Linked DNA regions of Homo sapiens: all the other regions are reported to be linked to region 7. The links are microRNA targets in miRTarBase. Many come from high-throughput screens and were not tested one by one. Region 7 holds a microRNA gene; each other region holds the end of a gene's coding sequence.

Region 1 (4,234 bases), not on the chromosome of region 7:
CTGATCCACCTCTTTGGGAGGGTCCCAAGGAGCTTAGTTAGAAAGAACCCACACTGTGCCCACCCTCTTCCCCCTCATATTGTACCTGGGAATGTGCATTCTGAGGCCCAGTAGGCCTGGATAATTTTTCTTCCACCCCTTACCTCCTGCCCTCTCTGGGCTCCAGGTACTAAGCACAAGACAATTCTGGAGGCCCGAAGTGGGCTCGGGCCCATCAAAGCTTACCCTCGGCTGGGGCCTCCCACCCCGGGGGAACCAGAGGCTCCTGCCCAGGACCGAACTTTCCACTGTGAGATCTGCAATGTCAAGGTCAACTCGGAGGTCCAACTGAAACAGGTGGGTCTAAGGCCCTTCCCAGGAATTCTGGGACGCTCCACCCGCTAAGTGGGGAAGGGGAGCAAGGAGCTTGAGTAAAGGCCCTTCTTCAGAGTTTTCCCCAGGGGGCCAGATGGGAGGGGGCCGGTGCTTGGAGCTTGATTATACTCCCTCGCTGTTGCCCCTTTCCGGGAGCTCACAGCCCCCTATCCACTGGCCCCCGCAGCACATCTCCAGCCGGCGGCACCGAGACGGCGTGGCCGGGAAGCCCAACCCACTACTGAGCCGTCACAAGAAGTCTAGGGGCGCCGGGGAGCTGGCGGTGAGGCCTGGATGCTGGGAATTCAGCAGTGGGAGGGCGCGGGCGGGGAGGAGAGAGGGACGCGGGCTTTGCCCAGGGAGAGGTGGGGTTTGCAGGACCGCCGGGTGACTTCTCTTCCTCCGCCTTTCGCCCGCTTCAGGGCACGCTGACTTTCTCCAAGGAGCTGCCCAAGTCCCTGGCGGGCGGCCTGCTCCCCAGCCCCCTGGCGGTGGCTGCAGTGATGGCAGCGGCAGCAGGCTCGCCGCTGTCCCTGCGCCCGGCTCCAGCCGCACCTCTTCTCCAGGGACCGCCGATCACTCACCCTCTGCTTCACCCGGCCCCCGGACCCATCCGAACTGCGCACGGACCCATCCTCTTCTCCCCGTACTGACCTCAACCCTGAACCCCTCCCATTCAACTCCCCACCTCCAGCCGGGACCCAGGCGTCCGGGCTCCCAGCCCGCCCCTCCTCCCGGCACTCCCTAAATGATCTCTCCTTCCCCCCCCCCACCCCGAGATACGGGGTTCCAGGAAAGGGGAGGGGTAGCGGGGGAGGGGGGCTTCAGAAGGGGGGGAACACCCCAGATCTCAGGGAACCCCGCCCCCTGCCTTTCCCTCTCCCCTAGAAAAGGGGGGGCCGTCTCACCCCCGAGCCCCCTTGGAGACACCCCCCCTCCCAAAAGCCATGTCCATCCAGCCCTTCCCCCCAAACCTAGCACAAAACGGGGTTCACAAGCCATGGTCGGGGTCCGGGGGGGACAGAAATGGATTTTCTTGGCAATAAGCGGACTCTGGGACTCCGGCTCCCTACCCCAAACTGAAGCGCTTCCGTGAACACCCCCGTCCTCCGTAGGGGGAGGGGAGCAGGCGGGATCCTGGGTCCCTCATAAGCACTTTGGTTTTACCGCCTGCAACCTCACTGTGCCCGCCCCGCACCATGCCCTAGCCCCAGGTCTAGCCGGGCCCATTGCAGGGGGCAGCACTTGGGGGCATCTCCGGCACTTGGGTGGGACCAAGGAGATGCCACCATAGACCTTTCCCTCGCCTTCTTCCTCCCTAGTCCGGGTTCCATTCTTTTCACCAGCACCCATCGCCCAAGGGGTACCGAGGGGGGCAAGGGGTGTCCAGTCCAAGCCCACCCCCGCCTCGCCTTCCGCAAAACTGTGAGCAAAAAGCAATAGAAGCCTCGCCCCCGCCCTTCCCCTTCGCAGGATTCGCCGAGTCTGTAGCCTCCCCGATCCAAGTTCCTAGACCTCATGGCTGTCCCCTCCCACCAGTCACCTCCACTGCACAACTCGGGCGGGGGTGTGACACCTCTCCCCCACCCCCGACTCCGTGGTTTCCGTATCGTCAACCCTTCAGCCGCCGACCCGGGAGGGGTCTGGCCTACACTGGTCTTCCCCTTCCCATCAACTCTTTCTGCTTGACAATGTAGCAACCCAGGCCCCCCACCCACGGTCCTCCCCTTTTTCCTCTCCCTGACAATAAAGTCTGAATTTGTTCTGCCCTCCGCCCCTAGACTCAGACTCTGTCTTTGCCCGCTGTTTTGGGAGCAATTCTGTCGTTAAATGTATCTGTATGGGACCGGCACAGAAAGAGGAAAGGGAGCGAGAAGGAGGAGGGAAACGGAAATCGGGGGTGGGGGAGGCAAAATATGAGGCTTGTGCAGAGTGAGCAGAGGCTCCCCATCCCACCCACGCCCACTCTCGTCCAGCTCGTGTAAACTTGGCCTGGGGGATCATTTCTAGTCCAAGTCTGGGACTGCAGCTGCAGCTGTTGAGAATTTGCCACAACTCCACAAGGCGGCGCCAACGACCCGGAAAAGGAGTCTAAGCCCGAGGCTAAGCCGCTCCTGTAATGTGTTTCGAGATTCCACGCAGATGGGTCTAGACTCAGTCTCAGACAAAGAAAAGAATCCAGGCTTTTGTGTGTCTGGTGGGAAACCCACGCCAGCGAGACTCAAGGCACAGGAAGAAACGGGGGGCAGAGACTGGGGATCTGAGCTCTAGGCTCTGGCCCCACATAAATAGTGACCTTGAGTCAGTCCTTGCCCTCTCTGGACCTCAGTGTCACAGTCTTCAAAATAAGGAGACTTGAGTCTTTCAAAGGTTCATTAAGATCTCATGTATCCAAGACTGAAGAACTGAGACTGTGCCATTTACAGATATACTGGAATACCTTCTCAACTGGCCCCTAAATGGTCTGTGGAACAGGGAAACACTGTTCAGCTGTCTCTCACATGGTATGTGAGGAAAATGGTTTCTCCGTTATCTCCAAAATGTGGTTCAACCATACACTCCCAAGAGCAGCCAGTAATCCTGACCCCCTCTATCCCTACTGAGAGGCAGGAAGTTCAAACAAAAAAGCCCAAACCAAAACCCAGAATCTATGTGAGTTCCTCCCGACTTTCATCTCTGCTCACTTCCCCCACTCTACCCACTTCCCAGTCTTGCAGAAGAAAGGAGGAGGGAAGTTGGGATGATGTCTGTTAAACAGGAAAGAGAGGGGAATGGGGGACTCCTGGGTTTGTCAACTGTGAGGCTGAAAGGAGGGTGTTCACTGTGGGTTCAGAATTGGAACCCAATAAGGAGTGTTTTGGTGTTTGTTTGCATGTTTGTTTCCAGGTAAATCTAGCTTTAAAAGGGGTGGGAGGATTCAGAAGGATGCGGGACAAGAGAGGCCCTATAGAAGAGTGGGTAGAGAAAAGCAGGGGCTGGGTCACATGTGGGGAAGGAGATAGGGACTGGAAGAAATTGGGGTTAGAGAGTCTGGGATCCTAGCAGACCCCACAAGTACTTCAAGTCTGCTAGTTTAAAACTGAATTCATTATTTACCCCTTTCCCTAAGCCTGCTCCTCCTCCCACATTTCCTATCTTATTAAGAGCACCACCATCTGTCTGGAAAACAGAAAGTTATCCTAGTTCCTCCTTCTTCCTAACTCTTCATCCAATGAATCACTAAATAAGTCCTATTTGACCTCCTAACAACCTATGGATCCTTATCATTCCTCCATTCCCACAACCACTGCCCTAACCAGGACTGGCTCCATAATTTGTGGGACCCAGTGCAAAATGAAAAAGCAGAGCCCCTTATTCAAAAAGTATAGTATTAAGAATTTAAAAACAGTGATTGACGAGCATTTAACCAAGCACCAGGCCCTTCAAACTGCAAGGCCCTATGCAGTTGTACAGGTGGTCTGGCCCTAACTTAGGGCCATTCTATCTCTCGTCTGAACTAGTGCCTCTTTACCCATTTCGCTCACTCCCAGGCTGCACGCCTTCATTCTTTACTCACAGCAATCTAAGTGCAAATCTCACCAACTCCTTCAGCATGAAACCAGCTCCTTAGCACGATACACAAGGTCCCCCTTGACCCTGCCTGCTCAACTCTCCAAGCTCTTCTCTGTTGTTCTCTACCTCATGCCCTTTGTTGGCTTCTACCTGAACCTCTGCGCCTCTACACATACTGTTCTCTTTGTCTAGAATGTCCCTCTACTTATCTCCCAAAAAACTCTCCTGTTCATCATTCAGAATGCAGCTCAGTAACCTCTCTGTGAACCCTTTCCTCACCTCCTACTTAATAGTATGCTCCTTTTCTCTAAGCCTCTGATATATCATT
Region 2 (4,000 bases), not on the chromosome of region 7:
AAGTTATTGACAGAGTTGGTCTTAAGTTTCCAGGCCTAAGACCCTGTGATGATTCATGAGGATTGATTTGAAAATGCGGACAGGCCACCGCCCTCTTGTCTGCATGGCAGATGGGCACAGGGTGGAACAGGAAGAGGGCCTGAGCTTGGGCCCAGCTCCATCACTGCTCAGCTGTGTGTACACTTAGACTTGTGATGTCTCTGGACCTTGCTGTCTTAACCTGTGATGTGGCCATGATGCTGTCCAGTTTAACAGTGCCTTGCCCCCATCCACATTCCCTAGGTAAGTCTTCCCTATACCCGCTGCCCTGGGTCCAGCTGATCTGCCTTTGAGCTTCTGTCTTGTTGCTGTTGCAGGAGCCATGAGCACAGAGGGCCCCAGCCTCGCCAGCTCCCCAGCCATCAGCCCCCTCGCCTTTCTCTCAGCTCCCGTCACTCCCGGGACCCTTGCAGAGGCAACTGACCCCCTCCCCATGCTCATCGCCCTGGCCTGCATCTTCCTCCTGCTGGCCACCTGTCTGCTGTTCATGACGCTCTGCAAGCCGGCCGCGCTGGACCCGAGCCGCCGCAGGGCTCACGAGTGCATGCCCCACCACCCTGGGAGCCCCAGTGAGCCCCAGCTCCGGCTCTGGAAGCGCCTGGGCTCCTTGCGCCTCTCCCTGCACAGCTTCCGCCATGGCCGGCCCACCGTCCCTCGACAGCCCCTGCCGGGCCCCGAGGACAACCGCAGCCACTGTGACTACATGGAATCTACCAAGATGTAATGGGGTGTCCACAAACATGCCCCCACATCCCCCTAGGTCTACCTGTAGATCCTCCTGCTTCAGAGACCGGTGCTGCAGGCTGCAGGAAGACAGTGGCCCAAGCAGTCTGGGACACACACTCACCCCCCGAAGCTCCTTGCATGCCCAGGCCAGCGCCCTTTCCCAAAGATGATCCTCAGAAGAGCACCTTCCTCTCTGCAGACCCCCTCGCTGCTGCTTGATGAAAGACTTCTGGTCAAGAGATGTGCACTCGTGGTCATCTGGGCCTTTGGCCTGAGGCTCCACAGGGTACAACCTGGGGCTCGTAACCACCTCCTAGAAGCAGCACCCTCGCTCGCCACAGAAGCCTTGCCCTCCAGGTGCCAAAGCCCAGCATGGAGAAGTTGCCAAATGGCAAAGGTTCCCTTTAGTCAAGTGAAATGCTCAGCCTACACCGGGGCCAAGACACTGTCCTGGCATCTGTGCTGGCCCAGTGCTGGGGCAAAACCTCGGGGCTCTCTTCCTTGGGTTTCCCGGGTGCTGCCAGCATCTGCCTGGTGCCCTGTGGGAGCAGCTGCCTCCCTCCTGGTGGAACAGATGCCTGGGTGCCAGCTGGGAGGAGGAGCAAACAGGGCTCTCCAAGCATGGTCTTGGCAGCCGTCTTGGTGGCCCCTCTTCAGGGCACCCACGTTGGGATCAATCAGGAAGGGATTGAAGATGATCGAGGAGGCTCCCTTCAGAGGCCAGGGCGGGTGCTGTGACAGAGTGGCAAGAGGCAGGGCATTTCCAGCAGCTGGAGGTGATGCCACCTGGACTCGGAGGAGGACAGCTCACAGCAGCTCCACACCTCACCCAGGGAAAGCGGCAGCCTCCCCGAGGGTGGGATGGTCTGGACCTCTCCAGGACAGCTGTGGGGTCCCAAGTCCTGCCCACACTAGGGATGCTATCTGTGGTTTTGGTGAGTGCTTTGCTGATGACCCGTCAAAGCAGTCCCACCCCAGGATGGGCTTCTCAGAATCCCAAACCCTTGACCTCTCCTCACAACGCGAGGGTTAAACACTTTGGTCAGGTCCCAAATTTGAAGGGTGGGCAGAGGGAGGACCTGGGCTGCCCAGCTCCTGTCCCAGTCAGCTGGCCAGGATCCCACCACAAAGCTGCCCCACCCCCATCCTGCTGTGACCCACAGTGCAGCCAGCCACGTCTCCCCAAGGAGTGAGCTCTGGCTTGCCACTCCCCAGCTCCAAAACCTTCACTGGCTCCCTAATGCCAAATGGATATAGCCAAAGCTCCTCAGCGCAGTGTGCAGTGCCCTCTGGGAGCTGGCTCCAATTAATCTTTCTAGCCTCATCTTGATCCAAAACTCCAGGAAAACTGAAAGACCTGTCACCCACTAACTGTGGCTTATGCTTCACACACACCCACTCTGTGAAGCCCTCCTGCCTGGAGCCGCCCCTACTGTCTCCTACCTCTCTTGGGGAGGAAAAGGAACATTCTCTTGGCAGCATGGGTCCTTTTTGTCTATGTCTTCTCTTTCCTACCAGCTTGGGAGCTTGCAGAGAGCCAGACATTGTCCAGCCCCTCACTTTGACTCCCCAGTTCTGTGCACAGAAGTATGAGGCTTCTGTGTACAGAGTGAAGCGTGGCCCAGCCTGGGTGTGTCCCCACCCTCTGAGGCAGGAGTCTTGGTGGAAGCTGGCATAACACAGAGCCTCATCTTCCCTCAGATGACTCTAGAAAGATTTCTCTCCAAGCAGGCTCTATTGGAGAAGCCCACTGTCCCTTCCTTCCAAGTCAATCTGATCTCAAAAAGTGAGTCCGGCTTCACAAGAAACTTACCAAGAGGACCTTGGAGAAGTCATCCTGAGACGCTGCATTTCTCCCTGAGAAATGGGAGAACTCAGGGCTGCCCTATATTAACTCGCTGGCTCTAGGATTTCAGTAAGAGTAGTATTGTGTAAATAGAAACCAAGTCTTTGGGTTTAGAAAGTGGGGCAGGCCTCCTCCCTAAGGGTTTTGTTCCTTCCTCCCTTCCTGCTCAGTAACCTCTTCCTGGTTTGCTTCCCCTGGGGCCTCCCTGCAAATCCTAGGCTGGATTCAGCCTGTAGCCATCCACCTCACCAGCAGGCCCTGCTGGCCACTAGGCACTGTCTTCCTGGAGGTTGGGGTGGGGGTTGAGGCTGCCCTGAGGCCTGAAGAAGGAAAAGTCCAGGAGGGGGAGGGCTCTCAATTGGGTTTCAGGCACCAGGCCAGGGGGGTATGCTCCAAGTCCTCACAAGCTGAGGCCCTGATCGAGAGAACCCTCTACTTCCTCCTTCTGGAGCTAGCCACCACACTCTCGCAAATCCTCAGGGCTTTCTGGGCTCTCTGTGTTTCTGGGAGTCAGCTCCCTGCTCCCCAGCCCTTTCCTGCCCGCCTCCTGGTCCCGATGCAGGGAGGGGAGCATTGCCAGCCTCCCACGCTTCTGTCCCTCCCAAGCCCGGGAGCCTGCCCCAGTGGGCAGGCCCAGATTCCCTGTTTGGCTCAGCCTCCGAGTCGGAAACCCCATAGTTGGTAAAGAGACTCATTCACTCCGGGCCTCCCTCCCCACCCAGCAACTGAGGCCTCTGGGCAGAGGTGTGGGTGCACACCCAAATTGTTTTCAGGGTCCTCCCTTCTCTCCCTCTGAGCCTTGGAGCTGTTGCGCCTGCTCCCTGGGCAAAGGAGCCCTTTCTTCTTGTGCCTGTTTACTTCCCAAGAGGGGAGCCTCGGCCAAGGGCTCTGTGAAAGCAGCTCTGTTCTGGGCCTTGCTGGGCCCTGGCTCTCTTCTCAACTCCTTTCCGGGAAATTGTGACGTCTCTTTCTCCCCGCTACTCTGAAAGGCCCTTCTGGGTGGGGCGGGAGATATGCAGGGGGAGGCCAAGTCTTCCTCCTGTTTGTGGGGAGCCAGAGCCCTATCCTCAGCTCTGCAACCTGGGGGCCCACACTCCCTGGGATGGGAGAGGGCCTGGGTCCCCCTTTCCCCACAGCACCTTCCAGAGCAGCGGACCCACCCTGGGCCCCCACCTGCTTCCGCCTCTGGTGCCACTGAGCATGTGCCCTCAGGGCCGTGTGTGGCTCCGCCTCCCCCAGCCCACCACCTGCCCCAGAGGCCACGGGCCACCTGCCTGCAAGATGCTGTGGCCTTCAGGGATGTCCTCAGGGACGCTGGCCTCATAGCTGCTCTGCAGAAAGATGGGCCGGTTGTCATTCACATCCAGGACAGTGACGAACACGGTGGCT
Region 3 (4,238 bases), not on the chromosome of region 7:
AGACAGCAGATTGGAAATAACACTGGAGTGGATGGGATGTCCTCTTCCCTGAGGGGGCCGGGGTACCAGACGGGAGGCTGGGAGAGGATGAGAGGCTGCCCCATGGCTGGAGGCAGTGTCCGTGTGTGCAGTCACCATCATCAACCCCCATTCGGCCCCTTCCCCAGATGCGCTGGTGACAGGGGCTTCTTGGATGTCAAATCATGTTGTAGGAGGGTGCAGACTGCGGGCTTCTGTGGGGAGCAGTACTACTGTGTCTGTCGGCAGTGGCCATGGGACCCTCAGCCCGTCCTGTACATGGAGCAGGGTGCACAGTCACCCTCCATCCTGTGGCGAGAGGCTGGCCCGGCCCGGCCAGGCGAGGCAGAAGGTGTCGGCCAAGTGGCCCCGACCCCATCCCGCAGTCTCTCAGCTGCTTTTTATTACCTCTGTGCCCCATTTGGGAGTTTGCTTCCTCCACCTGGACACTTTGCCCGGGAGGTCATCAGAGCCCAACCCCAGGCTCTGCTCGGTTGGAGAGGGGATGACTTCACCACCACCTGACCTTCCTAGGGTCCTGGTCTCACTGTCAGCTGGGGGTCCGTTGTGTGTATTTGTACAGTTTTGCTGTATGGGGTTTGTCACCCAAAAGCTGATGCTGAGAAAGGCCTCCCTGGGGCCCCTCCCGCGGGCATCTGAGAGACCTGGTGTTCCAGTGTTTCTGGAAATGGGTCCCAGTGCCGCCGGCTGTGAAGCTCTCAGATCAATCACGGGAAGGGCCTGGCGGTGGTGGCCACCTGGAACCACCCTGTCCTGTCTGTTTACATTTCACTATCAGGTTTTCTCTGGGCATTACGATTTGTTCCCCTACAACAGTGACCTGTGCATTCTGCTGTGGCCTGCTGTGTCTGCAGGTGGCTCTCAGCGAGGTACGGGGAGGGCGTCACCCTGCAGAACGGCAGAGTGACGCGTCCTCTCGCTGCTGAGCACCAGCTGTTTACCTGCCCTGCATCACTTCCTCGGATACTTTACTCAATAAGCATTTCCCCTGGAGTGTCCGTGCCCTGGTGTTTTTTATCGATACGTTGATTAAAACGCGTGGTTCCCCGTGTGCCTGAAGCAGACATTGCTGTGAAATCTTTTATTTTTGTTTTATGACACAGCATCAATTTCATGAATACTTTGAAAGGGCCATTAGAAAAAATAAGAGCCAATTTGGGTCATTTGAGAAACATTTTCAGCACAATTACAGTGGGGGCACGGGCCGTTCGGCTCCAGCTGGGTTTTCCCAGATGCAACAATCGCGGTTCTGGCTTCTCCACTGGTGGGGATGGGGATCGCGCCTTCGGAGCTCTCAGGGCGCCTGTCTGTCGGGGGCTGGGTGCGTCCACAGCCCCGGGGGATGGCGCGTGGCGTAGCCCAGGAACGGCATGTGGGTGGGTCTCTGACCTGCTTGTGCAGGGACTTGAGGGACCTCATCCCGATGGCCGAGGCAGGGGCTCCCCACGGGATAAAAGGATCCGGCCTGGCCTTGGGGTCCAAGAGGAGGGCCAAGGGAGTGGACCTGGCCCCTGTCCCCTCTCCTCCTCGAAACACTGGACACCCTGAAGCGAGACTATGGCTGCTGAGGATCCTGTGTGATGTGGCCGCGGGGCGTCCCCTCTGGCCTCAGGGGAAGAAGGACTGGGCGGCTCGGCCCAGGTCACCCTCTAGGAAGCAGAGGAGGTGCAGGTGCCAGTTCAGGGCAGAAAGAAAGAGCCACTGAGGCCATTGTCCTGAAGGCGGTGACCCCCAGGCACTCCTGCTGCCCCCCAGGAAGCCCTGGGCTGCGCTGGACACCGGGCCGAGTCTCCGTCTTCTGGACCGAGGCTCTTCTGGGCTTTCAGGCTCAGCTCGTCGGTCCATTCAGCAAGTTCAGGGGCAGACTGAGCCCTGCTCTGGCCATGGCTCAGCCGGAAACAAGAGCTGCCATGTTCGTAGCACCTGAGTACCCCCGCCGGGGAGGTCTCTGTCATCTCATGTCCCCGCTGGGCAGGTGCCCCACAGCAGGGGAGCCCTGGGCTCTCTCTGTCCCAAGCTCCCAGCTGCATCCAACCTCAGCTCACAGTTGTGGATCACCCTGACCTTCCAGAGTGCCCCTCCCAAGGGGCAGACCCAGCATCCTGGAGTCCCCACCCCGAGCTGTGCTGAAGGACAGCTGGGGCGGTAGGGCCAGGACCAGACCAGGCCTCTGACAAAGTCTCATCGAAATGAAACCAATGTGCCCGGGCCACCTTAAGGGGCCCTGACCAGGAAAGTTAGGCCTGAAGCTGCCAATGCCAGATCCTCAGGGTGTTACCTGTGTCCTTACGTGGCTAGGCCTGACCCCAAGTGCCACAACCCCCAACTTGGGGAGGGCAGGGCCACCTGGTGGGGACGGGCCAGCCAGAGCCCTTGGTCTCAGCTGTGGCAGCCACATCCCTGGCCCGGCTTGGCCCTGAGGGCCTTTGGGACATCTCTGGGCAGAGGCATGAGGGAGGGGAGAGTCCAGTAGCCAAGTCCGGCAGAGCCAGTGGGGCAGGAACGCCCAGCAGAAGGAAGCTGGGCTTGGGGCAGCAGAGACGTGCCAAGCCACCAGGCCTGGCCATGAGGATGAAGCACCTGGGCGGGGGAAGGGACGTACCTGCCACCCCAAGGCTCCACCAGGCAGAGAGACCCAACGGGCTGCCAACTCAAACCAGAACCCAAGCACGTCATAATGTCCTACAGACAGCATGGTGCCAATTATATGATAACCCCACATCAGTGAGAATAAGTAACGGCGGTGGCAGGGGCTGGGTGGGGGGCACACTCGCTCCCCACACAGGCCAGGGCTGAGCAGGAGGCCTCAGAGCTGCTCTTGGGGAGCAACCCAGGGCCTTGGGGCTTCTCTCCCATGCCCAGAAGGGCTGCACCAGGAACACCCAGCCCTGTCTCCTGCTCCAGTTCCACAGCACCCCTCACACCCTGCCCCAGACCCTCCACAACCAGGCACAGCCTGGAGTCAACACATCCAGGAGCCCCAACTTGGGAGGAGGGAGGAAGAGACTCCAGCCCCTCCCCACCATTCAACTTTTAAGGATGAATTGGAGGTCATCTGATTAGAGTTTCTGGCAGCTCCAATCATCTCTGATTGGCCCCACTCCCCGAGCAGCCTTAGGCTCTGCCGGGCTTGTCCCGGGCCTCAGTTTACCCCAAATGAGGATGCTGAGCCCAGGCCCCATGTAGCCCTATAACAAAGGTTGGAGAGGGGGTCCTTGCTGGGGCTTTGGCCTTGGAAAACCTGCAGGTAAACCTTTTCCTGGGATCTCCCCTTGCCCAGAAGTCAGGGTGAAGAGACGTTAGTTCCAAGGCTAAGGAGGCCTTTCAACTCGGGCTGAGACTGCCTGGCTCAATGAAAAATCAGGATCCAACTGGGCCCTACCTAGAGGTTTGGGCCTCACGCCGCTGTCCAGGGCCACAGCCGCAACTAGGCCACTCGCTGGTCCCCAGCGGGGCAGGAAAAATTGCTCCAGGGAAGTGGCTGAATGTTCGGGGGAAAATGGAACCGCTGAGGCCGTGTCCTTGTGGGGTGTCACCGCCCATCTGGGGCTCGTGGCTTGGAGGGACTGGGGCTGGGAGGAGCAGGCCAGGCAGCTGCGGCCACCGCCACCCCCACCCAGGACTGGGCGCTAGGTGCCCTCTCGGAAGCTGTGGATCTGCGTGGAGTACCTCTGCAGGTGGCCCTGGGGCTGGGCCTCCGTGGCCCCCAACGCACCCCCAGCCACCTGCTGCTGCTGCTGGTAGTGCTGGTAGAGCTTGGGGCCCGGCCCCTCCAGGCCTGGGAGGCGGCTGCTGGACATGGTCAGGATGGTGGCCGTCAGCGATTTGATGTAGTTCTTGGCCAGCGTGAGCGTCTCGATCTTGGAGAGCTTCTTGTCCGCGCGCACGTGGGGGATGACTTCACGCAGGGCCTGGAAGGCGTTATTTAGCTTGTGCATCCGCTGCCGCTCCCTCTCGTTGCTCTCCAGCCGCCGCTGGATGCTGCTGTCACGACGGCCACCGGGCCCGGAGGGTCCTGGCCGCCTGCGCCTGCCCTCGCCCGGAGCCCTTGCTGCGGCCCGGGCCGGCCGGCTCCGCAGACCCTTGGCCGGCTCTGGCCCCGGGTTCGGCAGGGACCCGTCGGGCGTCCCCTCCCCGGGGGTGGCCTCTGTGTCCTGCACCGGGGCCCGGCGCCGTGGGGGCCGGTTCTTGGTCTTCAT
Region 4 (4,244 bases), not on the chromosome of region 7:
TCACTGCCTGTCTTTATAATAAAGTTTTATTAGAACAAAGAAGCCACACTCAATTGTTTCCCTATCATCTACAACCGATCTTGCTCTACCACAGCAGAGTTGAGTCGTGATGGAGACCATATGGCTCACGGAACCAGAAATATTTAGTCTGTCCCTTTACCAAAAAAAAATTTGCTGGCTTTTGTTCTAGATTGCACTATCTAAATTTAAATTAAAGTTAAATAAAATTTAAATTTCCAGCTGGGTACGGTGGCTCACGCCTGTAATCTCAGTGCTTTGGGAGGCCAAGGCAGGCAGATCACCTAAGGGCAGGAGTTCAAGACCAGCCTGGCCAACATGGCAAAACCCCATCTCTACTAAAAGTAAAATTAGCCAGGCATGGTGACAGGCGTCGGTAACCCCAGCTACTTGGGAGGCTGAGGCAGGAGAATCACTTGAACCTGGGAGGTGGAGGTTGCAGTGAACCGAGATTGCACCACTGCACTCCAGCCTGGGTGACAGAGTGAGACTCCGTCTCAAATAGGTAAAATATCAATAGGCAGGAAGCCAGCTTGGGGATGTGCAAGGGACAACGGGGACAACGGGGACCACCGGCTGGCGGCCCCACCTCATCTGCCTGCCTTCTCCTCACAGGACGCAAAGTACCACATGCAGCGCTGCATTGACTCTGGCCTCTGGGTCCCCAACTCTAAGGCCAGCGAGGCCAAGGAGGGAGAGGAGGCAGGTCCTGGGGACCCATTACTGGAAGCTGTTCCCAAGACGGGCGATGAGAAGGATGTCAGTGTGTGACCTGCCCCAGCTACCACCGCCACCTGCTTCCAGGCCCCTATGTGCCCCTTTTCAGAAAACAGATAGATGCCATCTCGCCCGCTCCTGACTTCCTCTACTTGCGCTGCTCGGCCCAGCCTGGGGGGCCCGCCCAGCCCTCCCTGGCCTCTCCACTGTCTCCACTCTCCAGCGCCCATTCAAGTCTCTGCTTTGAGTCAAGGGGCTTCACTGCCTGCAGCCCCCCATCAGCATTATGCCAAAGGCCCGGGGGTCCGGGGAAGGGCAGAGGTCACCAGGCTGGTCTACCAGGTAGTTGGGGAGGGTCCCCAGCCAAGGGGCCGGCTCTCGTCACTGGGCTCTGTTTTCACTGTTCGTCTGCTGTCTGTGTCTTCTATTTGGCAAACAGCAATGATCTTCCAATAAAAGATTTCAGATGCTCTCTGGGCTGCTGGGAGGGCCGTTCAGGCAGCCCATCTCTTGTAGGTGGGAGGGAAACTTGGTGGGATATTGGGGGCTGAGCTGTGCTTCTCTGGTCCTTTGCCCACCAGCCATCGTGGGTCCTCGCCTCACACATGCTGTTCCACAACTTGGAACAGTCTTCTTCCAGAGGCCTCAAAAGCCCCCAACCTTCAGTCTCACCCACCCACTCCCTTGTCCCTACTTGGACCTCCAGAATGCAGGGTGGCCCAAGCTGATCACCACCAGAGGGCAGTAGTGATCTGCAAACCAAGTCACATTCCCTAGGGTTTTGTGGATCTGGCGCACCTGCCCGCACCCCACACCTTTCCAGCTTCCTACAACCTTTTGGAGCAGCATCCTGGATGGACTATATCTCCCCACCCTATGGCCAGCGCTGCCCCCAAACAGATTTTTTTTTTTTTTTTTTTTTGAGAGTCCAGCTATCACCCAGGCTGGAGTGCGGTGGTGGAATCTCGGATCACTACAACCTCCACCTCCCAGGTTCAAGTGATTCTCCTGCCTCAGCCTCCTGCTGGGATTATAGGCACCCGCCACCACACTCGGCTAATTTTTTGTGTTTTTAGTAGACATGGGGTTTCACCATATTGGCCACACTAGTCTTGAACTCCTGACCTCAGGTGATCCTCCCACTTTGGCCTCCCAAAGTGCTGGGATTACAGGTGTGAGCCGCTGCACTTGGCCCCACCCCCCCAAACATTCTTGATTCTGACCACTGCCTTTTGTCCCTATGGCCTTCAGGTCCCCATCGCCTCTGGCTCTAATTCCTGCCCCAGCCTCCTCCTCATTCCCCACTACAAGTCAGCCCCTGAACAGGCAGCAGCCAGAGGGTACCTGTGAACACCCAGGTCAGGGCATGTCCCACCTCTGCTCAAAAGCCTCGCAGGACTCCCCTCCCTGGGAGCAGAAGCCGAAGTCCTCCCTGCAACTGACCAGGCCCCCAGCACCATCTGCCTGTTGCCTCGCTGCCCTGTTGTCCCCAACTCCATGCTGGCCCTTGAGCACTTGAAATTTCTCTTCGTGTGGCTTTGGGTGATGCGCTGAGCCTCAGTGTCCCTGCTCTTAGGGCTAACGTCGTCGCGCTAGTGCCCTCCTCAGGCCGTAGTGAGGGGGACAAGTGAGGTAATGGTTCAGACAACTGGCACCTGGCACTCAGATTCTCTGAACGGGGACCTTGGCACTTGCTGGCCGTCTTCAAAAGTCACAAAATATTTCTGCCACAGGAAAAGTCTTAAAGAAGAGTGCACGGCCAGGCGTGGCTCACACCTGTAATCCCAACACTTTGGGAGACTGAGGCAGGAGGATCACTTGAGCCCAGGAGTTCAAGACCAGCCTGGCTAACATGGTGAAACCCAGTCTGCACTAAAAACACAAAAATTAGCCAGGTATGGTGGCACGTGCCTGTAGTCCCAGCTACTCAGGAAGCTGAGGCAGGAGAACTGCTTGAACCTGAGAGGTGGAGGTTGCAGTGAGCCAGGATCACGCCACTGCGCTCCAACCTGGGTGACAAAGACTTATCTCAAAAACAACAACAACAACAAAAAAAAAAAACAGTGCTGGGCGCAGTGGGGCGCACCTGTAGTTACAGATACTTGGGAGGCTAAGGCAGGAGGATTGCTTGAGCCCGGGAGGTCAAGGCTGCAGTGAGCTAAGATCAAAGTACAATAAATACCCAGGTTCACATCAGTTTAAGACATGAAATACCTCCGATCCAGTAGACTTATGCCTACCTCTCCTGGGGGACATCATCTCTGAGGGGACTGCTTGTCACTCAGACCACAGATCAATGCCACTTCTCTGAGGCCCTCCTTGACCTACTTTAATTCCCCTCATGCTCAGCCACCAAACCTGCCTCACATGCCTTTCTTCACACAGACCTGTGTATTGTCACCTCCCATGTACTGTGGGTGCCACCAGAGCACGGACTTTTTCTTGCAACATACACAGTGCCAGAAAGGGGACCTTCAGGAAACATTTGCAAAAGCATTGGATAAAAACCCCTGGAATGCTGTTGTGCCCAAGCCGATCACCACCAGGGGGCAGGAGTGAGCTGCAAATCTAGTAACTTTCCTTAGTGTTTTGTATGAGTGAGAACGACAGGTAGGAGCTGCAGGGGGACTCCTGGAACCCTGATTGAGCCTCAGACACCTTCCAAGATCTTTTTATTTATTTATTTTTCAGAGACAGGGTTCTCTCCATGTTGTTCAGGCTGGATTTGAACAGAGCTGAAGCAGTCTGCTCGCCTCAGCTTCCCAAAGTGTTGGGACTACAGGCCAGTGTGCCCTGCCGAGTAAAAATTTTAATTTTTGAGCGGGGCGCGGTGGCTTACGCCTGTAATCCCAGCACTTTGGGAGGCCGAGGAGGGCGGGTCACAAGGTCAGGAGTCCGCGACCAGCCTGACCAACATGGTGGAACCCCGTCTGTACAAAAAATACAAAACTTAGCCAGGCGTGGTGGCACGTGCCTGTAATCCCAGCTACTCGGGAAGCTGAGGCAGGAGAATCGCTTGAACCCGGGAGGCAGAGGTTGCAGTGAGCCAAGATCGCGCCACTGCACTCCAGCCTGGACAACAGAGTGAGACTCCGTCTCAAAAATAATAATAATAATAATAATTTTTGTTCATCATACACATTTTGGTGTTAATTTCAGTTTTTCAAAATACTGCATTCCTTGTTATTGAAGATTTTGTTTGTATTTTGTGAGACTGAGTCTCACTCTGTCGCCCAGGCTGGAGTGCAGTCGCATGATCTCGGGCTCACTGCAACCTCTGCCTCCCAGTTTCAAGGGATTCTCCCTCCTCAGCCTCCCAAGTAGCTGGGATTACAGGCGCACTCCACCACACCTGGCTTTTTTTTTTTTTTTTTTTTGAGACAGAGTCTCACTCTGTCGCCCAGGCTGGAGTGCAGTGGCATGATCTCGGCTCACTGCAAGCTCCACCTCCGGGGTTCACGCCATTCTCCTGCCTCAGCCTCCCGAGTAGCTGGGACTACAGGCGCCCG
Region 5 (4,202 bases), not on the chromosome of region 7:
AAAAGAATAAATGCAGATAGTTGATCTGGCAGAGGATAGCTTTAATCTGCTAGACTGGAAGGCCAGTGAGGGCAGGGACCAGTGTTTTTGGTATGGCATACCTAGTACCTAATAACAGTACCTGGTACATCATTTCTGATAAATATTTGCTTTAATATTTTTTCAGCACCATGTATTTTTTCCTTGCTGTTCAAGTGCGTGTGTTTTTTTGTTTTTAGATGTTTTTTCTGTAGACTAATATTTTCAATGCAAATCTACTTTAAAAACCTAGAGTTTTCTACAGCTTGTTCAATTCCATAAAGAAAACATTGTTTCGATTTTACTTTAGGAAGAAGTTTACAAATGGAAGTTACTTTTACTTAATAATTCAAAATAGTCAAAGGAATAAATTACCATACCATTTTTGTACAATTGAATAGATTTCACTTTAATTTGGAACTATTCTATTGGTTATATAGTCTGCCTATGTCTCTGTAAAGTGTACCTAGTATAATACTGGAAGAATGATTTCAATCTTAGGAAAGTTTTGAATAACTGGCACTATAACATTCTATTGTGAAAAATGTTTTTTAGTCTTATTTATTGTGTATTAGAATGAGAAACCAGAAGCACTGCTATGGGTTTGTCATATGTTTTTTTTAACAAGGGAAGTTTAAAGATCTTTTTTGTTTTATTGTTGTAGGTTGCAAGACAACAGACAGTTCAGAGGCAGGGACAACAGATGGGGGTGGCCAAGTGACAATCGATCCAATCAGTGGCATGGACGATCCTGGGGTAACAACTACCCGCAACACAGACAAGAACCTTACTATCCCCAGCAATATGGACATTATGGTTACAACCAGCGGCCTCCTTACGGTTACTACTGATAGAAATGTTGGCAGCTTTTAGTAAAAGCATTTACTCTGTTACCATGAGAAAAGTTTGGGTGTCTTCTGTTGGTCATAGTTTTACATCTGATTTTACAGAATGGATTATTGATTTTTTGGAAGTTGAGACTTTAAAAAAAATAGATCTTACTTGCGAAATGCGATGGTTGCTGGGAATACCTGAAACTGTGGATTATATTGCTTGACTTCTACCTCAGAATCTTCTTTGTTTCATGACTTAATAGTGCTTTAAGTTTGGTATATTATTTGACCTCTAGGAATTCTTTGTTTTACACAGAAATAAAAATTTTAAAATAGAAAATGCTTTTACTTTGTAAGGTAAGAGAGTATCCATATGCTTAGATGTGCTCGTTTCTAAAATTCTAGAGGTTGATATAATCAGCTCATGAATGCACAGCTATGCTTTTTGTGATAGATTGTACATAACATCAGCAGTTGAAAGGTAAAACAATTGCTTTTTTTTTTTTTTGCATTTGTTAAGTGACTATGGTACTTTGTGATTCCTTAATCTATAGATGAGTCAGCTCCACACTTGAGTCTCTTTTTAGAGGGAAATCAGTAATAAAGCTGTAAAATAAGGAAGGAATCATTGTCAGTTTGTGTCTTGATCTGGTGGTGGTTGGGATAAGGGTACACATCATTTTATACAAACACTAAAGCTTTTTGCTAACAACATAGCAGGTCAAAATTCACACATAAGAAAGTTTAACTCTGTACTGTTCACACTTTTTAATCCTGTAAATAATGCTGCATTTTGATGGTTCTTACTTTTTTGGTATTTAATGTGGGCTGATTTTACAATGTTATATTCACTTCCAGATGCATACCTCTGCTGCTTTCTCTCCTATAAATAGTGATGCTATAAACTTCCTTTCACAGAGATCATTCTATTTCAAATCACTTTAATGATTATTACAATGATTTCATTCAAATAAAAATTTTAAAATATTTAAGCATCTTCACTCCCAAGTTCTGGCAGTTAGCCCATTTATTAATATGGTGAAATGAGATTTTTGGGTTTTTTTATGCTGTCCTTCATATCTGTTGAAAAGGGCTTATTTGGTTTAACAGTAACATTAAGAGTGCAAATTTCAACATAGGTCAAAGGAATTAACAGGCACCTTCCTGACTTTATTAGAGTGACAAAAAAATATATATATTTAAAAAGGCGTCTTCCAGCCAGGCATGGTGGCTCATGCCTGTAGTCCCAGCACTTTGGGAGGCTGTGGGCGGATCACTTGGGGTCAGGAGTTCGAGACCAGCCTGACCAACATGATGAGACCCCGTCTCTACTAAAAATACAAAAATTAGCCGGGTGTGGTGGCACATGCCTGTAATCCCAGCTACTCGGGAGGCTGAGGCAGGACAATTGTTTGAAGCCCAGAGGCGGAAGTTGCAGTGAGCCAAGATCGTGCCACTGCACTCCAGCCTGGGCAACAGAGCAAGACTTCATCTCATAAAAAAAACGGGGGCATCTTCGTAAACCTATTTTTAATGCCTTCTCTCTTAGCACCCCACTCTAGGCCCTCGAGGTTGACTTCTCCAGGTACTTCATGCTCTCCATCTACCTCTCCCTTTTATTCTCCCTTCCTGAAGAGCCATCCTCTCGGGTAACTGTTTTATTGGAAATGACCTAATAAGTCGGGCAGTCACACTAAGATGCAAATACAATTTTAATAGTAAGGGTTTTCCCTGTAACCTCCCTAATTACATCAGTAGGCAAGAAGCCAGTGCTGTTATATAAAGATAGGATTTGATACTACAGATATTTAGTCTAGATAGTAATGTCCTGACTACACCCCAGAATCTTCTCTGAAAGCAGAAGTGTTATCAAAAATATCACCTGGTTGGGTATGGTGGCTCACACCTGTTATCCCAGCACTCTGGGAGGCCGAGGCGGGAAGATCACTTGAAGCCAGGAGTTCGAGGCCAGCCTGGGCAATGTAGCAAGATCCTGTCTCTACAGAAAATTTTAAAATTAGCTGGGTGTGGTGGTGCACGCCTGTAGTCCTAGCTACTCAGGAGGCTGAGGCAGGAGGCTCCCTTGAGTCCGGGAAGAGTTCAAGACTACAGTGAGCTAGGATCATGGCACTGTACTCCAGTTTGGGCTAGATAGATGCTGTCTCTTAAAAGTAATGATTTATAGGCTGGGCACGGTGGCTCACAGTTGTAATCGCAGCACTTTGGGGGGCTGAGATGGGCAGATCACCCCAGGTGAGGAGTTCGAGACCAGCCTGGCCAATATGGTGAAATCCTGTCTCTATTAAAAATACGAAAATTAGCCAGGCATGGTGGCGGATGCCTGTAATCCCAGTTACTCGGGAGACTGAGTTAAGAGAATCACTTGAACCTGGGAGGTGGAGGTGGCAGTGACCTGAGACCATGCCATTGCACTCCAGCCTGGGCAACAAGAGCGAAACTCTCTCAAAGAAAAAAAAAAAGATTTATAAAATCATCTCCTGAGAAAGCACAGGCACTGACCAGTAGTTGGGACAGTATAGCTGACTGTAGCTTTAGGTCAGGATTCTGTGCTGTGCCAGCTGTTGACACAAAGGGAGATGTATGGGTCCAAGGCCAGCGCTGGAGGAGTACTTCTCAGGAAGCTCAGAAGAGAGGTGGTTTTCCAACAGTATTTAAATGTTTTAACACCCAACACAGCTAGGCTGCTTGTGTCCTGAGTATCAGCCGTGCTTGAAAAAATGGGAGGAAACCTTTTAACATGAGTAAATTCTGCATGCTGCATGAATAATCTATGTTGTTATGGTTTTTGTTTTTTAACAGCAGTTACTATCAGACTGTACCCCTGCCCCTGATCTGCTTAAAACCAGGAAGAAATAAAAGGTACAGTTTCTGCTTCATAAGACAGAAAATAACATGAAAAAAAGCTTAAAGATAATTTAAGAGTGAGAGCAAATAAAATAGTGTCAAATAGAATTAATTTCAAGTAGTCTGTTGTAATAACATATGGCATTAGGTATAAGGAATCCTAGCTTCCAGTTCTGTGCTTAAAACATATGTGACCGTGAGAAAATCATGTAAACACTGAGCTTATTGGCTCAGCTGTAAAAATGGGGACAATACCCACCCTGCCACCCTCACAGAATTATAAAAATAAATAATCAAAGGAAGAACTTGAGAATATAGAGTTGTGACCATTAAATCCCTAGTAGGACACAATAGGTGCTGCATAAACATTTGTTGAATCAACGGGAGGGAAGTATTTGGTAAATTGTAAAGCGTAGTGTTGACATAAAGGATGTAGAGTAACGGGCAGAAGATGAGGTAGGGCAGAAGACGTTGAGAATTAAGGAT
Region 6 (4,197 bases), not on the chromosome of region 7:
GAAAATCAAATAGCAGGCTGGGAAATCACCCCAGGGTGGGGAGATGGAAGAAGAATGGAGACAGTGATAGTGAGGACTGGAGTGTAAATTCTAAGTGACAGCCTTTTCCAAGCCACTAAGGTCAGGATCCAAGGCCTGGAGTAGGGTAGGTGGTTCTGTACATATCACAAAAATTGCACCCACAACAGCAGGAAAAAAATTCCAAGACTGATATTGAGGCAGGTGTGCAAAACAAAAGCAGAGACAATCTGATTTAAGGAAAAGATTGATTTACTTTCAATTTTATTTTTAAATTTCAGATCCACCTAATGCCCTGAGCAGTTTTACTTCAGAACAAAGAGCAGGCCCCTTTACCTTTCAGAGCCTGCACACAAGGGAGCCTGAAGAACACACACATTCTGCACTCAGTGATACACCATAGCTGTAAAGGAAACTAATAAAGGCAAGCTGCATTGATCATGTGGCAAATGCTAGGCCCTGTGCAATGCACTTTTACAGGCATTTTCTCATTTAATCCTTCAATATTACTATGGCATTGTTACTATCTTCATTTCTCAGATGCGGAAACAAGTTACATAGCTCACTAAGATGACAAAATCTAGTAATTAGTGGGGCTGTAGGAAGATTTTTAATATTATAAAATCACTATTTTTCCCAGTTAAAGGACTGCTCAGATTTTCTCTTTTTCATGGCAGTTTTAGTAAGATATATTTCCTAGAAATTTAAATAGTTCATGTAAATGTTCAAATTTATTGACATTAATTTGGTCATAATTTTTTTAAATGTCTCTAGAATCTGAGAAGTATTCCTCTCTTCATTTTTGATATTATCTGTGCCTTCTTTCTTTCTCTTGGCCAATCCAGTCAGAAATTTATAAATTTCTTTTAGTCTTCAAAACTCAACTTCTTGATTTGTTGATCATTTCTATTGTAAGTTTGTTTCCTATTTTATTAATTTCTTTTATCTCTACTACAATTCCATATTATTTCCTGCAACCTCCACCTCCCAGGTTCAAGGGATTCTCCTGCCTCAGCCTCCTGAGTAGCTGGGATTACAGGCACGTGCCGCCATGCCCAGCTAATTTTTGTATTTTTAGTAGAGACGGGATTTCACCTTGTTGGCCAGGATGATCTCAATCTCCTGACCTCATGATCTGCCCACCTTGGCCTCCCAAAGTGCTGGGATTACAGGCCTGAGCCACCGTGCCCGGCCAGAGAACATTTTTTATAAGGATATTCAGAGGCAATATCCATCAGCTACATTAAAGCAATTTTTTAAAAAAGGTTACATGAGCAGTAACTAAGATCATATTGCTTTTCACTTCCCATTAAGACAATAAACTTAAAACTAGTTCAACTTTGCTTATTTTATTTTTTCATATGCTTCTAATTCCTGGAAGGCTTATGTTATCACTGATTTTATTGTGCCTGACAATATTTCAAGGATATAGGTTACATTTTGCTTTATTATATACACCTAAAGATATAATCACTTTGGGAAACAAACCTAAAAAACTGTTTCATTATAATTTTTAATTTACACATGCATAATATATCAGAAAAATACTGGATACTCTCTTTCAAGAAATTCCAACATACACAACTTGGTGTACATTTACTTAATCCTCTTAGTCATTAATTTAAGATTTACAGACAGGCTTGGTTTCTATACAAGAAACAATCAATGGTATGTAACTACGATAAAGTATTCAGGAGAAATGTGTTTCAGGGAAAGATAATTAACATTTAAGGTTTTTGTCTTTTCTGTTTTTTGTGTAATTTACAAGATCTGAAGGGCTTAACCACAGATGTGAATATAAATAAGGAAAAGTTATCATATGGAAAAATATAATTCTCAAATGCTGATGCCAAAAGTAGTGTTAAAATTTTGTCTTATGAAATTTGAGTCAGGGGAGAAGGGCCAGGGCCAGGGCCCACATATACCCAAATGGTCCAAGCACTAAAAAAAAGTGTGCATTTTCTTTAGATAATTCTACAGCTGGTATTCACTTGCTTGGAAGAAGTACAGTTCTAAGATGATAGCTTCACAAATAACACTGTCATTTATAAGACACAAAAATGTAATAAACCAATCAGACTCTATATAGCATGGCCATATGAATAAAGATAACAAACTGCCTTCTTGAAATGACTACAACTCAATACTAATGAAACTGTCTAGGGTCAATGGTCTTGTAGTTTGAGGTGTTATCTGAGCTCATTGTTTCACAACCAAGAAAATTAAGGAGGCTGGACACAAGGGTGAGGTTGGAGCAAAACTTTTATAAGCAAAAGAAAGAAAGCTCTCCACAGTGGAGAACGGACCCGAGTGAGCTGCTGTTTTTACAGTTGAATCCAAAAGCTTTTATGTGAAACTCCCCTCAACTCTGTAGCTGTTTGTGTAACTTCCCTTATCTATGAAGCTGTGTATGTAACTCTCCTTATCTTTGTATATCTTGGGTAAGCACAAAGTGCAGCTTCTCTTGTTTGTGTAACTGTGGGTCTGTTTTAGGCAAGCCCCTCACCTCCCTGTGCAAGTTCCCACAGAGCCCACCATGTAAATGCCTGAAAATGGGAGGAATTTTTTTCCTGAGAGCCTGCTAATCACACAAAGAACAAAGGCTCTATGCTGGGCCTTGCCTTCTTATCAGTGCAGGTGCAGTTTGGTTTTTCCCCAGGCTGCTCTATTTATGCCTGTAGCTGTGATTTTTTCAGGCTCTTTCTCAGAAGACTAGCCTTAGTGGTCTGCCTAACTGATTTTTCCTTTTCTTCTCCCTCACTATTTCAGCTTATTAAAAGGCAAGCATGTTGGCTTGTTTCTGGGTCTGCTTTGCGGATCTGCAGTTGTATTGTACCTGGCACAGAAGCTACAGCGTATGCTATTTGGGAGAGTGGGGAAGCACTTGCCTAGAAAATCAAGATGGTTGTGTTCCAATTCTGTTTTGGCCCCCAGTTAGTCCCCCTAAGTAAGACATCTTCTCAAGGTCCTTATTTCCTCATTAAAAACAATAAGTGAACTGGACTCGTTCTTTAAGTTCCATTCTAGAACTGTGATTCTAAGGTGACTTGCAGGTTCATCTAACAAGACATAACACTCATAGTCTGTTTATGTTAAGTCACTTTTGAGATATTTATTATTAGAAACCATCCAACATGAAATATGAATTATTAAAATGTTTTTCTCCATGTTTCAAACCAGAAACAGTAATTCAGAATGCAACTAGCATCCTAATTTTTAAAATCAAAATAAGATGACCAGATTAATAAAACTTAGCATTCACAGTATTCAATCTAGAAAAAATATAATTAATAGAATGTTAAAGCCAAAAGAACATTTGAAAGACAGAAAGAGAGAAGGGGAGGAGAGAAAGAGAGAGGGAAAAGAGAAAGCAAGAAAGAGGAGGAGGAGGAGGATTGAGAGATGGAGAGTTTGAGATTGAGACTTCTTATGAAATATATTTTAACGGCAATTACTCATTAACAACTGTGCATTGAGAATATTTGAACATGTTGTTAAAAGCTAGGGGAAAAATGTCAAAACACAGAACCAAAATGATTCTGTATTTCCTAAAGATATACTTTGAGAAACAGAAAAATTATTTCCCATTTCACTATCCCCCAGTACCAAAAGGGAGCATTTTATGATATGCACATCTGTATAATATTTTATAGAAAATAAATGCCAAGGTATTTACAATTTAATTTACTATTTCCTCTTCAATTTGTTTTTTATAGCAGACATATTAATTTCATTTTGAACATGATATGCCAAATATCCTGAGGTTCCAGGAATGAAGTCATGTAGCTCCCCAAGGAATTTCTTCATGGCATCAATTGATATATAACCTACAAAATAAAATTTAAAAAAAGATATATACTTAAAACCCGCTCATACTATTTGCTTTTCAGTGTCTTTGATTTATTAGAGTTAAGACTTCTAAAGAATGTTTTTAGAAAAGAAGTAAAAAGAAGAAATAATACCAGTGAGAAGATTCTCCATGAAACCTTATAATTATCCGGGAACACCTCCTCTTCCCCTCCCACAACTTTCTGCCACCTTTTAAAATATTAAAAGGTGGATTAAAGCTGCTTTGACTATTGAGATTGTGATGTCTAGGTTGGGGCTAGGACATAAAAGAACTTAGATAAAAATAACTGGGAAGTGTTTCTAGCTTAGACGGTAATCACTTAGAACTAT
Region 7 (4,244 bases):
CCTGCCATTTGCAACAATATGGATGGAACTGGAGGACATTATGTTAAGTGAAATAAGTCAGGCACAGAAAGACAAACTTCAACTGTTCTCACTCACTTGTGGGAGCTGAAAGTTAAAACAATTGAAATCATGGGGACAGAGACTAGAATATTGGTTATCAGGGGCTGGGAAGGGTAGTGGGGTAGAGGAAGGAAACTGGGGATGGTTAATGAGTACAAAAATCCAGTGAGATAGAAAGAAGTAAGTTCTAGTATTTGATAGTACAACAGGATAACTACAGTCAACAATAATTTATTATATATTTAAAAATAACTACAAGAGTATAACTGGAATGTTTGAAACACAAAGAAATGACAAATGCTTGAGGTCAGAGATACCCTATTTACCTTGATGTGATTATTACACATTGTATACCTATATCAAAACATTTCATGTACCCCATAAATATATACACTATGTACCTATTAAAATTTTTAAAATAAATAGTCTTAAGGTAACAGTTTTCAAATTTTTTTTTACTGCAACCCACAGGAAGAAGTGTATTTATAGTGAGAGCTTGCACATGCATACATACACCATATATACATACATACACCACATATACATACATACACCACATATACATACACCACATATACACATACACCACATATACATACATACACATGTACATACATACACCACATATACATACATACACCACATATACATACATACACCACATATACATACATACACCACATATAAAAAACCAAAAGTTTCATAAGACAAAATGTGTGATGGGCTCAGAATTGAATATTTCCTATTATGTTACAGTTCTTTTTTTTTTTTTTTTTTTTTTGAGACAGAGTCTTGTTCTGTCGCCCAGGCTGGAGTGCAATGGCGCAGTCTGGATTCACTGCAACCTCCGCCTCCTGGGTTCAAGCGATTCTCCTGCCTCAGCCTCCCGAAAAGTTGGGATTACAGGCGCCGCCACCACTCCCAGTTAATTTTTGTATTTTTAGTGGAGACGGGGTTTCACCATGTTGGTCAGGCTGGTCTGCAACTCCTGACCTCATGCTCCACCTGCCTCAGCCTCCCAAAGTGCTGGGATTACAGGCGTGAGCCACTGCGCCGGGCCTATGGTTCATTTTTTAAAACGCTCATTGTGACCTAATAAATTAACTTCCCAGATGACTCATGGGTTTGGACCCACAACATAAAACACCACTGCCCCAAACAATCTGAACCGAGGCGCACAGAATAGTAAGTGGTAGCTACTGACATTGAGTCTCACAACTTCCTCCACTGGACATTGAAATTATAATTATAAACAGAAATATAAAATTGAGACAATTTCTTGAAAATGTTTCAGAAATGCATATGCCCCTTGGTTTCAGGCTTCTACCTGTTTTAGCTCTTCTTTTTCTAACTGGTTGAAAATGCAGGTATTGGCAGAAAACCTGAGGATAATTACAGACCCTAGATGACAAAGACAGAGATGGCAAATCATGCTGATGAAAAGCCTGAAGATCTGTAAATCAGAAAAACAAAATTCCTGGTTATTCAGAATATACAGACATCATTCCAATCAAAACTTGGCCTTTGGCACCGGAGCAGTGAGGCAAACTGGCTGGTCATGAGAACAGGCATTACTTCTGGCCACTCCAGAGGCAGGTGGAAGCAGAGCGTCCAAGCCTTCAAGCCCCTTGGTCTTGGTACAGACCTACTGCCTTTCTCTCCAGAGGACAGTCAAAAGATTCTGGGTTAGGGATGCCTCTGGAGACTCTAAGGACACTAAGCAGCTTAAAAGGGCTTCTATGAGCCCATGAGTAAAGTCCTCATGCAGGCCTCACCCAGCAAGCAGTTGAGCTCAGTGTATTAGAAATGAGAGCAGCCTGCGCAACATAGTAAGACCTTGGCTCTACAAAAAATAAAAAATTAGCCAGGCGTGGTGGTGTATGCCTGTAGCTGTAGCTAGTTGGGAGGCTGAGGTGGGAGGATGGTTTGAGCCTGGGAGGTTAAGGCTGCAGTGAGCCAAGATTGCACTACTGCACTCCAGCCTGAGCAACAGGAAAAAAAAGGAAAGAAAATAAAAGAGCAACGGAGGAAGGGAGGGAGGGAGGGAAGCAGGCAGGCAGGAAGGAGAGGCTGGGCATGGTGGCTCATGCCTGTAACCCCAGCACTTGGGAAGAATGAGGCAGAAGGATCACCTGAACCCAGGAGTTTGAGACCAGCCTGGACAACATGGGGAGACCTCATCTCTACAAAAATAAATTAAAAAATGAGCCAGGCCAGGTGGCACACACCTGAAGTCTTAGCTACTCGGGAAGCTGAGGTGGGAGGATTGCTTGAGCCTGGGAGCTGTGACCTGCAGTGAGCTGTGATCGTGCCACTGCACTCCAGCCTGGGCAACAGGGCAAGATCCTGTCTCAATAATAATAATAATAATAACAATAATCATAAAAAATAGAAATGAGCCAATACTCTGATTTTCACCCCAAGATGGATTCAAGCAACATTCCCAAGACCACCGCCAGCCCTCCTACAACCAGCTTTGGCTGATGGTGACTGAATATGCTCGGTGCCCAGGGTCACCCTCACTAGAGGCACGCCTCAGCCAGAGCACAGCACTGAAGAGTCAGCATGCACAGGGCTGAGGCCACCGCCCCCTGCAATGAGAATGGGCTCCCCAGCCAAATCTACCCACAGCTGGGGTCATAAGATGAGAATCCTTCCCAGCAATCCCTCAGATTCCTCTTTCCTTGTGTCTGAGAGCCTGGTACCCTCACAAGTGTTCTTCCCCAGGGTGTCTGTCCTCCTTGAGACATGTCCTATGGGTTTTCATCCCCATATGTGTTTTCTGCATTGTCATATTTTAAATCCCATTCAAGAGACTGCAGAACATTATTTCCAAATTTAATTTCATATGGTTTGAATGACATTTCCAAAAGGAAAATGCACCAATCTCAGAAATGTTTTACTCCACTGATTCATTCTTAACTTTCCATTTCTGTACCTTCTTTCCTTCTTGTGTTGGACTATTTTTTTTTTAAAGATGGAGTCTCGCTCTGTCACCCAGGCTGGAGTGCAGTGGTGCGATCTCAGCTCACTGCAAGCTCCACCTCCCGGGTTCACGCCATTCTCCTGCCTCAGCCTCCCAAGTAGCTGGGACTACAGGTGCACGCTGCCATGCCTGGCTAATTTTTTTTTTTTTTGTATTTTTAGTAGAGATGGGGTTTCACCGTGCTAGCCAGGATGGTCTTGATCTCCTGACCTCATGATCCGCCCACCTTGGCTTCCCAAAAGTGCTGAGATTACAGGTGCCTGCCACCGTGCCCGGCTAATTTTCTGTACTTCTAGTAGAGACGGGGTTTCACTGTGTTAGCCAGGATGGTCTTGATCTCCTGACCTCGTGATCCACCCACCTCGGCCTCCCAAAGTGCTGGGATTACAGGCGTGAGCCACTGCACCTGGCCGTGTTGTACTATTTTTAAGAAATAAAGTGATTTTTTTGGTATAATAAATAATGGGAAGATGCACAATGTCAATACCAAACTTAAATAGCTTTGATTCATTTGGGTTCCCACCTTCATCCACTTATAATTCATTTTAACCTATAGGTTATAAATGATTAATTACTCATATTTTAAAATCATCAAAAAACTTATATCATTGAGGTTGTATCAACTACAAACAATGTATGACTGTAGGCTTGCACTGGTGATCTGAGAAAAGGCTCCCAGCAGGACTGAAGGCAAGAATATTCAGAGAACGCTCAATAGAAAACTGTTACATACTTTTCAAATTTTCATTTGGTGATATGATTCATAAAACCAACTAATGAGAATTCTATATTAGAAAAACAATATATGTAAACCAAAGTAAAACTAGCTACTAATTTTTTTGTTAAGTCCTCCCATAAAGGGAATGTTTTCCAGAAATGTGTTAGCAGGAGTAGCTTGGATCTGCACTGTCCACCATATATTCGTATATATCCACGTGTGCATTTAGGTGCCTAGGTCTATATCTGGGTACATGCATACAAATTTCCTGAGCAGTCAAAATCCTATTGGTCGTAAGACAAAAGAGCAGGGGCACTGCCCATGAAGTTATCAGATCCAGGCCTTCAGTTTCTAATTGAACACTTCAGGGCTACTTTTATCATGTGTCAACTTGAAACCCACACTCAATTTTTCCTTTTAAACCATGTTGCGTCTGTAATACAGCAATGTTTTGGATATACTGTGGCAAGCTCTGCTAGG

The links. The annotated mature microRNA hsa-miR-4306 reads UGGAGAGAAAGGCAGUA and lies in region 7 at 1,707-1,723, opposite strand. An mRNA with a match to its seed (bases 2 to 7 or 8) in the 3' UTR can be bound and repressed. Matches are read on the target gene's strand: a 7mer-m8 pairs with bases 2 to 8, a 7mer-A1 pairs with bases 2 to 7 and ends in A, and an 8mer does both.
Region 1: the mRNA of ZNF385A is a reported target of hsa-miR-4306. Seed matches in the 3' UTR shown: 7mer-m8 at 1,107-1,113.
Region 2: the mRNA of C10orf105 is a reported target of hsa-miR-4306. Seed matches in the 3' UTR shown: 7mer-A1 at 1,377-1,383, 7mer-A1 at 1,638-1,644, 8mer at 2,484-2,491 and 7mer-m8 at 3,395-3,401.
Region 3: miRTarBase lists BHLHA15 as a target of hsa-miR-4306. Seed matches in the 3' UTR shown: 7mer-A1 at 3,241-3,247.
Region 4: the mRNA of CDC37 is a reported target of hsa-miR-4306. Seed matches in the 3' UTR shown: 7mer-A1 at 935-941 and 7mer-A1 at 951-957.
Region 5: miRTarBase lists RAMAC as a target of hsa-miR-4306. Seed matches in the 3' UTR shown: 7mer-m8 at 1,729-1,735.
Region 6: miRTarBase lists TERB2 as a target of hsa-miR-4306. Seed matches in the 3' UTR shown: 7mer-A1 at 3,422-3,428 and 7mer-m8 at 3,361-3,367.

What each region holds. Positions count from the first base shown.
Region 1 is chr12:54,367,029-54,371,262 of GRCh38, reverse strand. ZNF385A (zinc finger protein 385A) reads left to right here. Exons shown (of 7, transcript NM_015481.3): 5 at 167-336; 6 at 542-637; 7 at 777-2,127. The coding sequence ends at 1,007. The region is part of intron 1 of GPR84-AS1 (GPR84, ZNF385A, ITGA5 and GTSF1 antisense RNA 1); the gene reads right to left. Among named protein-coding and RNA genes, the nearest start is that of GPR84, 4.7 kb to the right of the region's middle.
Region 2 is chr10:71,712,699-71,716,698 of GRCh38, reverse strand. C10orf105 (chromosome 10 open reading frame 105) reads left to right here. Exons shown (of 2, transcript NM_001164375.3): 2 at 357-4,000. The coding sequence starts at 362. The coding sequence ends at 763. CDH23 (cadherin related 23) reads right to left here. Exons shown (of 70, transcript NM_022124.6): 28 at 3,886-4,000. Among named protein-coding and RNA genes, the nearest start is that of C10orf105, 5.1 kb to the left of the region's middle.
Region 3 is chr7:98,212,310-98,216,547 of GRCh38, reverse strand. It overlaps BHLHA15 (basic helix-loop-helix family member a15), which reads right to left. Exons shown (of 2, transcript NM_177455.4): 2 at 1,091-4,238. The coding sequence starts at 4,238. The coding sequence ends at 3,669. It overlaps TECPR1 (tectonin beta-propeller repeat containing 1), which reads left to right. Exons shown (of 26, transcript NM_015395.3): 26 at 1-1,924. Among named protein-coding and RNA genes, the nearest start is that of BHLHA15, 3.0 kb to the right of the region's middle.
Region 4 is chr19:10,388,096-10,392,339 of GRCh38, reverse strand. CDC37 (cell division cycle 37, HSP90 cochaperone) reads left to right here. Exons shown (of 8, transcript NM_007065.4): 8 at 634-1,207. The coding sequence ends at 789. Among named protein-coding and RNA genes, the nearest start is that of TYK2, 9.6 kb to the right of the region's middle. RefSeq lists enhancers at 3,446-3,505, 3,085-3,585.
Region 5 is chr15:82,989,199-82,993,400 of GRCh38, forward strand. It overlaps RAMAC (RNA guanine-7 methyltransferase activating subunit), which reads left to right. Exons shown (of 4, transcript NM_031452.4): 4 at 683-1,859. The coding sequence ends at 869. It also overlaps a transcript of C15orf40 not described here. Among named protein-coding and RNA genes, the nearest start is that of RAMAC, 5.1 kb to the left of the region's middle.
Region 6 is chr15:44,978,137-44,982,333 of GRCh38, reverse strand. It overlaps TERB2 (telomere repeat binding bouquet formation protein 2), which reads right to left. Exons shown (of 7, transcript NM_152448.3): 7 at 3,105-3,845. The coding sequence ends at 3,706. Among named protein-coding and RNA genes, the nearest start is that of TERB2, 24 kb to the right of the region's middle. RefSeq lists a silencer at 2,056-2,256.
Region 7 is chr13:99,640,602-99,644,845 of GRCh38, reverse strand. MIR4306 (microRNA 4306) reads right to left here and starts at 1,787; the gene lies at 1,697-1,787. All of the region lies in intron 1 of CLYBL (citramalyl-CoA lyase), which reads right to left.